Regions from separate parts of the Homo sapiens genome. Here all the other regions are linked to region 1. The links come from fine-mapping of genetic effects on gene expression. Tissue or cell type: subcutaneous fat. Region 1 holds a variant in brackets; each other region holds the start of a gene. All regions are shown on one strand. Distances are between the middles of the regions.

The links. PIP is the estimated chance that this variant, and not a neighbour inherited with it, causes the effect.
Region 2: SCD starts here. The variant in region 1 is fine-mapped to the expression of SCD in subcutaneous fat (GTEx, PIP above 0.99). The same link has a PIP of 0.9 or more in visceral fat.
Region 3: BLOC1S2 starts here. The variant in region 1 is fine-mapped to the expression of BLOC1S2 in subcutaneous fat (GTEx, PIP above 0.99).

What each region holds. Positions count from the first base shown.
Region 1 is chr10:100,314,603-100,317,102 of GRCh38, reverse strand. The region is part of intron 2 of PKD2L1 (polycystin 2 like 1, transient receptor potential cation channel); the gene reads left to right. Among named protein-coding and RNA genes, the nearest start is that of PKD2L1, 14 kb to the left of the region's middle. The variant C/T (reference allele first, on the strand shown) is at 1,381.
Region 2 is chr10:100,346,229-100,348,728 of GRCh38, reverse strand. It overlaps SCD (stearoyl-CoA desaturase), which reads right to left and starts at 1,496. Exons shown (of 6, transcript NM_005063.5): 1 at 1,198-1,496; 2 at 383-665. The coding sequence starts at 1,224. RefSeq lists enhancers at 1,132-1,371, 1,752-1,821, 1,470-2,061 and silencers at 1,602-1,651, 1,852-2,231.
Region 3 is chr10:100,285,479-100,287,978 of GRCh38, reverse strand. It overlaps BLOC1S2 (biogenesis of lysosomal organelles complex 1 subunit 2), which reads left to right and starts at 1,299. Exons shown (of 5, transcript NM_173809.5): 1 at 1,299-1,374; 2 at 1,766-1,882. The coding sequence starts at 1,320. RefSeq lists a silencer at 1,183-1,382 and enhancers at 1,673-1,972, 1,558-2,065.

The DNA.
Region 1 (2,500 bases):
ATTTTTATTTTTTTGAGATGGAATCTCAGCTCTGTCACCCAGGCTGCAGTGCAGTGGGGCGATCTTGGCTCACTGCAGCCACTGCCTCCCAGGCTCAAGGGATCCTCCCACCTCAGCCTCCCAGGTAGCTGGGACTACAGGCAGGTGCCACCACACCCAGCTAATTTTTTGTATTTTTGGTAGAGATGGGGTTTTACCATGTTACCCAGGCTGGACTCGAACTCCTGAGCTCAAGCTATGCACCTGCCTTGACTTCCCAAAGTGCTGAGATTACAGGCATGAATCACTGTGTCTGGCCAGTTTTAACTTTTAATAAGGTAATGATTGATAGATATAACCCAAATAAATGAAAACTGTTTGTAGTCCTCAAAATATTGAAGTTGCAAAGGGGTTCTGAGAACAAAATGTGTGTAAACCACTGGCTCAGAGACTGAGTCTAAGCTGGTCAAATTAGATTATTTCATAGCATGGAGGAAAAGAACAGATGAGACAAAGAGAGCTTATTAGCAAAATGCTGAAACTAAGTTTGAGATCCTGGATAGTCACACATTCATTCATTCAAACATTTATGAAGTCTTACTATGTGCCAGGCCCTAGGCCAAGTGCTGAGGGTTTTGAAATACCTGAGACAAGGCTGGGCAAGATGGCTCACACCTGTGGCTCAGAATTTTGGGAGGCCGAGGCAGGCAGATCACCTGAGGTCAGGAGTTCGAGACCAGCTTGACCAACATGGAGAAACCCCATCTCTACTAAAAATACAAAATTAGCCAGGCGTGGTGGCGCATGCCGGTAATCCTAGCTACTCCGGAGGCTGAGGCAGGAGAATTGCTTGAACCTGGGAGGCAGAGTTTGCAATGAGCTGAGATCGTGCCATTGCACACCAGCCTGGGCAACAAAAGCAAGACTCCGTCTCAAAAAAAACAAAAGAAATACCCGAGACACATCTTCTGCCTTCAAGGAGTAAGGAAGGCTGACATGTAAACAAACAGTGACATAGAATGTGATGAGCGCTACAGTGGAGGGTGCACTGGGACCATGGTAAGAAGTGGGAGACAAAGTGGTCAGGGAGAGCTGGGAAATCTTGAAGGTCCCAGAGACAGGTACCATTCGTGTCTGGGGAAGCCCAAAGTCATCGCCATTTGCTTGCCTGCTTATTTTAACAGTGTTAAAACTGTTTTTAACTGTTTTTAAGTCATTGCCAGGGAGGCCTAAAGTCATTGCCATTTGCTTGCTTGCCTGTTAGTTTTAATAGTGCTGGCTGTCAGCCTGGAGGAGGCAGGGGATGGAGGAGGTAGCGCCAGCCAACTAAGGCCTCAGGCTATGAATATGCAAGAGTTTTGCCATAGTCAGAGTCTCAAGGGGCAAGTAAGAGGAAAAAGG[C/T]GTAAACCAGCATTTCTTCTCATTCTATTACAACATAATTCTACCCCCTTTCCCCTACAAAGAAAATCAGACTGGTAATATATTTATTAAATTTTTACCTAATACATAGTCCTTGTTTTTTAAAAGTCAAATAACATAGAGAATGTGAAAATCCCTCTTCATTCTCAGCAAACTAACACAGGAACAGAAAACCAAACATCGCATGCTCTCACTCATAAGTGGAAGTTGAACAACGAGAATACATGGACACAGGGAGGGGAACAACACACACCCAGGCCTGTCACGGGGTAGGGGGCAAGGGGAGGGAGAGGATTAGGACAAATATCTAATGCGTGCAGGTCTTAAAACCTAGATGATGAGTCGATAGGTGCAGCAAACCACCATGGCACATGTATACCTATGTGACAAACCTGGGCTTAAAACCTAGATGACGGGTTGATAGGTGCAGCAAACCACCGTGGCACATGTATACCTATGTAACAAACCTGCACGTTCTGCACATGTACCCCAGAACTTAAAGTAAAATAAAATAAAACAAAATAAAAAATCCCTCTCAGTAATCACTGTTCCTAGTTTGGTATATAATCATTTCAACTGTTTTCTCTTCCCTTCCCTTCCCTTCCCTTCCCTTCCCTTCCCTTCCCTTCCCTTCCCTTCCCTTCCCTTCCCTTCCCTTCCCTTCCCTTCCCTTCCCTTCCCTTCCCTTCCCTTCCTTCCTTCCTTCCTTCCTTCCTTCCTTCCTTCCTTCCTTCCTTCCTTCTTTCTTTCTTTCTTTCTTTTCTGCCTTAGCCTCTGGAGTAGCTGAGACTACAGGCTCACACCAACACGCCTGGCTAATTTTTGTATTTTTAGTAGAGATGGGGTTTCACCATGTTGGCCAGGCTGGTCTTGAACTCCTGACCTTGGGTGATCCCCACCCACCTCAGCCTCCCAAAGTGCTGGGATTACAGGCTAGCCAGCGCACCCGGCCCATTTCAATTGTTTTCTAGACATATATAAATATACATGAATTTTAGATAAAGAAGCTTCTGTTGGTTTACACTAGAAGGATGTGTAAAGTCAACAGCAATGCCGTCTGTGAGGTGGAACGTCCGCTGATTGTGATAAATGTAGTATAGGA
Region 2 (2,500 bases), 32 kb before region 1:
CAATGGTTTAGTACCATGTTCCCATGCCTCCCAGGTAGAGGGGTTTGATTCTTTTGTGGCTGGCAGGGGTGGGACAGGCAGCCAAGCAAATGACTCAAACAGAAAAGCTCTTTCAGGGAAAGCTGACTCTCCAGCACAGCACACTTCAAAGCCCACAAGCACAAGGTTCCAAAGCTCTCAACCCCCAGCATTGACAGTCCTGCATCTCAGTACCCCCAGGTTCTTCCCAGCCCACTAGGCCTGAAGCAACCAAAGAGAAATGCCTGAGAAAAACCCCAACCGGGAGGCTGGGAGGGGCTGGTGTCCTCTGTAAGATCCTACCTTATTAAAAGAGCAGTGAGTACCTGGAGGACTAGGTCAGGAGGACAGGGAGGCTGCTTACCCCAAAGCCAGGTGTAGAACTTGCAGGTAGGAATCAAAGTGATCCCATACAGGGCTCCCAAGTGTAGCAGAGACATAAGGATGATGTTTCTCCAGACATATTCAACCTTGGGGCTTGGGCCTTCCTTATCCTTGTAGGTGGGGTCATATATATCATCTTTTATATCAGGGCGAATGTCGTCTTCCAAGTAGAGGGGCATCGTCTCCAACTTATCTCCTCCATTCTGCAGGACCCTGGAGGGAGGCGCTGTAATGGTGGTGGTGGTGGTATAGGAGCTAGAGATCTGGAAGGGGGAGGAAGAGGAGAGTCAGGAGAAGAGACACGTGGAGGCAGCTGGGGCCACTCCGCTCTCTAATCACGCTGGGGGAAGGGTGGACAGTACGGACCCTTCCGCAGCGCCGTAGTTCACTGAGGGTAGGGTGTATCCGAGACGCAACGGAGAAAAGTTCCCTGAAACTGTACAGATACATTAGGGGCGGAGGGCGAGGGGGACGAGGGGCGCGAAACCTATCGGGAGGCGGCAGTAGGAAGGAGAAGTAAAGCACTCACATCCCCACGAAGACAAAGGAAAACCCGCATAATTCATAAAAGCACCAGCACGACCGGATTTTTCTTTAAAGCTTAAGAAACTAAAGTTGGAGACTCAAGTCCCCAAATTACAATCCACATTCCCAACTCACGGAAGGCAGCACAACTCGAAAAAGATGACCAAGTCCTCCGCGGAGCTCTCCCCTCTCTTCTGCCACCAACCCGTCCCCTGGAAGCCCAGCCCGCGCCTGCGACCCGGCGGTACGGGGCCAGGCTGGGAAACTCACATCGTCCTGCAGCAAGTGGGCCGGCATCTTGGCTCTCGGATGCCGGGATCACTTTCCAGGGGGCTGAGGCTCCGGAGCGGAGTTCGGGGTCGCCGGAGGACTGCGGTTTCGAAGCCCGCCGGTACGCGCTGAGCCGCGGCGCCTTGCACGCTAGCTGGTTGTCGGCGCTAGCCGCGGTGCGTGGAGGTCCCCGAGCCGGGAATTTAAAGGCTAGAGCTGGCAACGGGTGACCGTGTCCGGTATTTCCTCAGCCCCCTTTTATCCGCTGCCAAGCAGGGGCAAAGTGCGAGGAGTTGACTGGCGCGGGCGGTCCCGCGTGGAGGTAAGGGCGGGAGGGGGAGGAGACAGAGGCCGAGGCTCGCGGCGACCGCAGCAGGGCGCCGGGGATGCTGCCGACACCGACACCACACCACCCGGCCTCTGCCCCTGCCCCTGCCTCTGGGGAAATGCTAATGAGGCTTCTGTAAACTCCGGCTCGTCATTGGCCGAAGGGAATTTGGTGCCACCTCGTCCTGCCGTTGCCATTGGCTCGGCGCAATCTGCTGTTCCCTCTGCCGCCAGCTCCTCGCTCCCCCTCCCCTCTGTTTCTCCTTCTCAGCTTCTCTTCCACCCGCCGCTGGGCCTCTGCCCGGCATCCCGCGTCGGGAGCTTTCTCTCTGGAAGGGGCTGGGGACCCGGTTTGGGGCTGGGGCGCGGAGCCTAGCCCAGGACCGGCCCTCGGGCACACGGAGAACGGGTGGGTGGGCACTGGGGAAGTTTCTCAGGAAACAGTGGTGAACCCTCGGGGGGCGCCCACCACTAACATCTCCGTCCCGTCTTCCGTCCCCCCAGGCGCGTGGCAGGGAGACGTGGCAGCCACCCCAGGATCTGGAGCTTGGGGGACGCGGGAAGCCCCGCCTCCCTCCCGGGCGAGCGCGGGGGACTCGGTACGCCTGCGAACAATGGCTCTGCCCCGCCCACCAGCCACGCGCTGCTCACCCGGGACCGCACCGGACTCCGGCCGCACACACAGGCTGGCTGGTGTGTGTGTGCCTGCGCGCACGCATCCTGTTCAGGACCCGGGCGGGCAGTCCCATCCCCAAGCCCGCGCCTCCAGGATGCGTGCGGGATGTTTTGGAGATTCTTCAGACTGGCAGGTTGTAATTTTGGAATCTTCTTTGTGGAAACCGTCAGGAAACACTGACATGTGTTTTCACCCAGCAGCAGGCGAAAGGGCTTGGATGTGGAATAAGAATAGCTGGCAGGTATTGAATTATTACTGCAAGCCAATTCACAAGAATCGTTTTCTGTAAGCCTCTCTGTG
Region 3 (2,500 bases), 29 kb after region 1:
CGCTTGTAATCCCAGCACTTTGGGAGGCTATGTTGGGTGGATCACTTGAGGCCAGAAGTTCCAGACAAGCCTGGGCAAAATGCTGAAATCCTGTCTTTAATAAAAATACAAACAAATTAGCCAGGTGTGGTGGCGCGTGCCTGTTATCCCAGCTACTTGGGAGGCTGAGGCATGAGAATCGTTTGAACTCGGGAGGTGGAGGTTGCAGTGAGCTGAGCCGAGATCACGTTACTGTACTCCAGCCTGGGTGACAGAGCGAGACTCTGTTTCAAAAAAAAGAACTTCTGGCTCGCAGGAATGGCTTGAAATAGTGGCTACTATGGTTGCACCATAGGAAAAGTGGGGACAGGTGACAAGTGAGACTCAGTCCTCAGGGTGGAGACAGTCAGGGTAGGAGGGCTGGGGATAAGGGGTAGCTGGCGTGTGTGTGTATGTACTGGCATCGGGGTGGGGTGAGAGGGTGCAGAGGGAGGATAACCAGGGATAAGAAAAGAAACTACCAAGATTTTGGGTGTCCAGGAGCCTGCCTGAGGCCTGCTGAATATCTCCTATCCCTTCTTCTGTGGCCTTTATCCCTCCTCATTTTGCACCTTCAATTGCTCCCCAGTCACTTCTTCTCATCCATCTCTTTCACTCACTCCTGTTCTCCCATCCCATTAAGTACTCTGTACACCTAGGAGGCTTGTGAAACAGCTTAAATGCAATTAAGATAACCAGAGTGTATCCTCAGCCCTAAAAAAGTTACAGTCTAAGCTTTCTTCAAGGAAGGCTGTATCAACTGAAGAGAAGTAGATGCCTGCCTGCAGTTTAAGAAATAGGGGCCAGTGAGTTGGTGTTAACTCAGGACATTGGGAGGGACAGTATTTAGGACCAGGGATCAATGCCTGAAGGTTTCCCAAAGTGTGGACGAGACAACCTGTAAAACTTTGGATTCCCTGAGCAATCTTTTGATGACTAACTCCAGTGCGGAGTGTCAGGAGAGCGGGCAATCCGTCTTCAGTGGTTTTGGTCAGCAGGCCACAAACAGGGTTGACTATTCCCAGACGGGTCGTGAGTGGTACAAGATGAGTGATCCCTCCAGGGTGTGACTGTAGGGATGAGCTCGCCCTCAGTCCCAGACGTCGCGACTGTTGGCAGTGGATCAATTCACAACAGCCTGGCGTAGCTTCAATTTCGGCTCCGGAATCGCCCTTTGCTGTGTCATAGACCTGAGGCTGGACTGGACCGCTAGGCGCAGGACTGCAGGGCCGGCCGGGTGGGCGGGGCACACCCAGTGCGCATGCGCAGCACCCCGGCCCGGAAACAGCGCGGGGTCCGCTATGGCGGCGGCAGCCGAGGGCGTACTGGCGACCCGGAGTGATGAGCCCGCCCGAGGTACCCGGAATGGATGGGGAGGAAGCGTCCGGTGGGGGGCCTGGGGCTCCGTCTCGGGTGGGCGAGGTTGAGTGTGTGGTGGCTCACCTGGCAGGAACGGGCTGGTGAGAGGAGTGCACTTGTCGCTGCGCGCGAGTGTTTGTCCTGTCAGGGTGACTGGGATGGTGCCAGGATGAGCGGGGGTGCCGGGTATGGGCGAGGGGCGGTGCGAGGGAGGCGAGTTGATGTGTCAGATGGGCAGGGACGCAGTGAAGGACTTGAAATTATGGCAGATGGAGAATGGAGCCGACTTGATGGAATGAAGGCAAGTGGAGGGATGTCGGAACAGGCTGCTTTGGCTGGATTAGCACCGGGTGTAGGCGGGACACTTAGTCATTCTCCCTTGGCCCAGACGATGCCGCCGTGGAGACAGCTGAGGAAGCAAAGGAGCCTGCTGAAGCTGACATCACTGAGCTCTGCCGGGACATGTTCTCCAAAATGGCCACTTACCTGACTGGGGAACTGACGGGTGAGGCGGGGTCTGGGTTGATTCGGGTGCGGTTTGGCCCAGGAGGCCTGGGAGATGGTTAGCAGCATCAGTCTGCAGCTCCCTTCCTACCCTGCATGCCCTGAGACAGGCCTGTTGGAAGTTGGGGGAGGCCATGAATGGGAGAGAAAGAAAATACAACTCTGCAGGCCTCTGTAACATAGACTAATGAGAAAACAATAACAAAAAAGAGTTCATATCCAGCAACAGTAATCAAGAAGTGCTTCCTTGGGGAAAGTGTATTTTGAGCAGGGTTGTGAAGGGAATTATTGGTGGAAAAGGGGGAGATGATACAACTAGCGAATGAGGTGGTATGTGCAAGCAGTGTGTTTGGCTAAAGCAGAAGATGTGTTTACCGGGATAAAGAGAAATGAAATTGAGGAACGGGGAGTGACCTGCAGATTTAGGGACCTATTAGTTTGGTCTGAGGATTTGATAACCCATCCTTTGGGACATGACTAGTGTTTGATCGTTTCCAAGTGGACACATGACCTATGTGTGGAGGAGGATCAGAAAGTGAAGTATGGGCAGGGCGCGGTGGCTCATGCCTTTAATCCCAGAGGCCGAGGCTGGTGGATCACTTGAGGTCAGGAGTTTGAG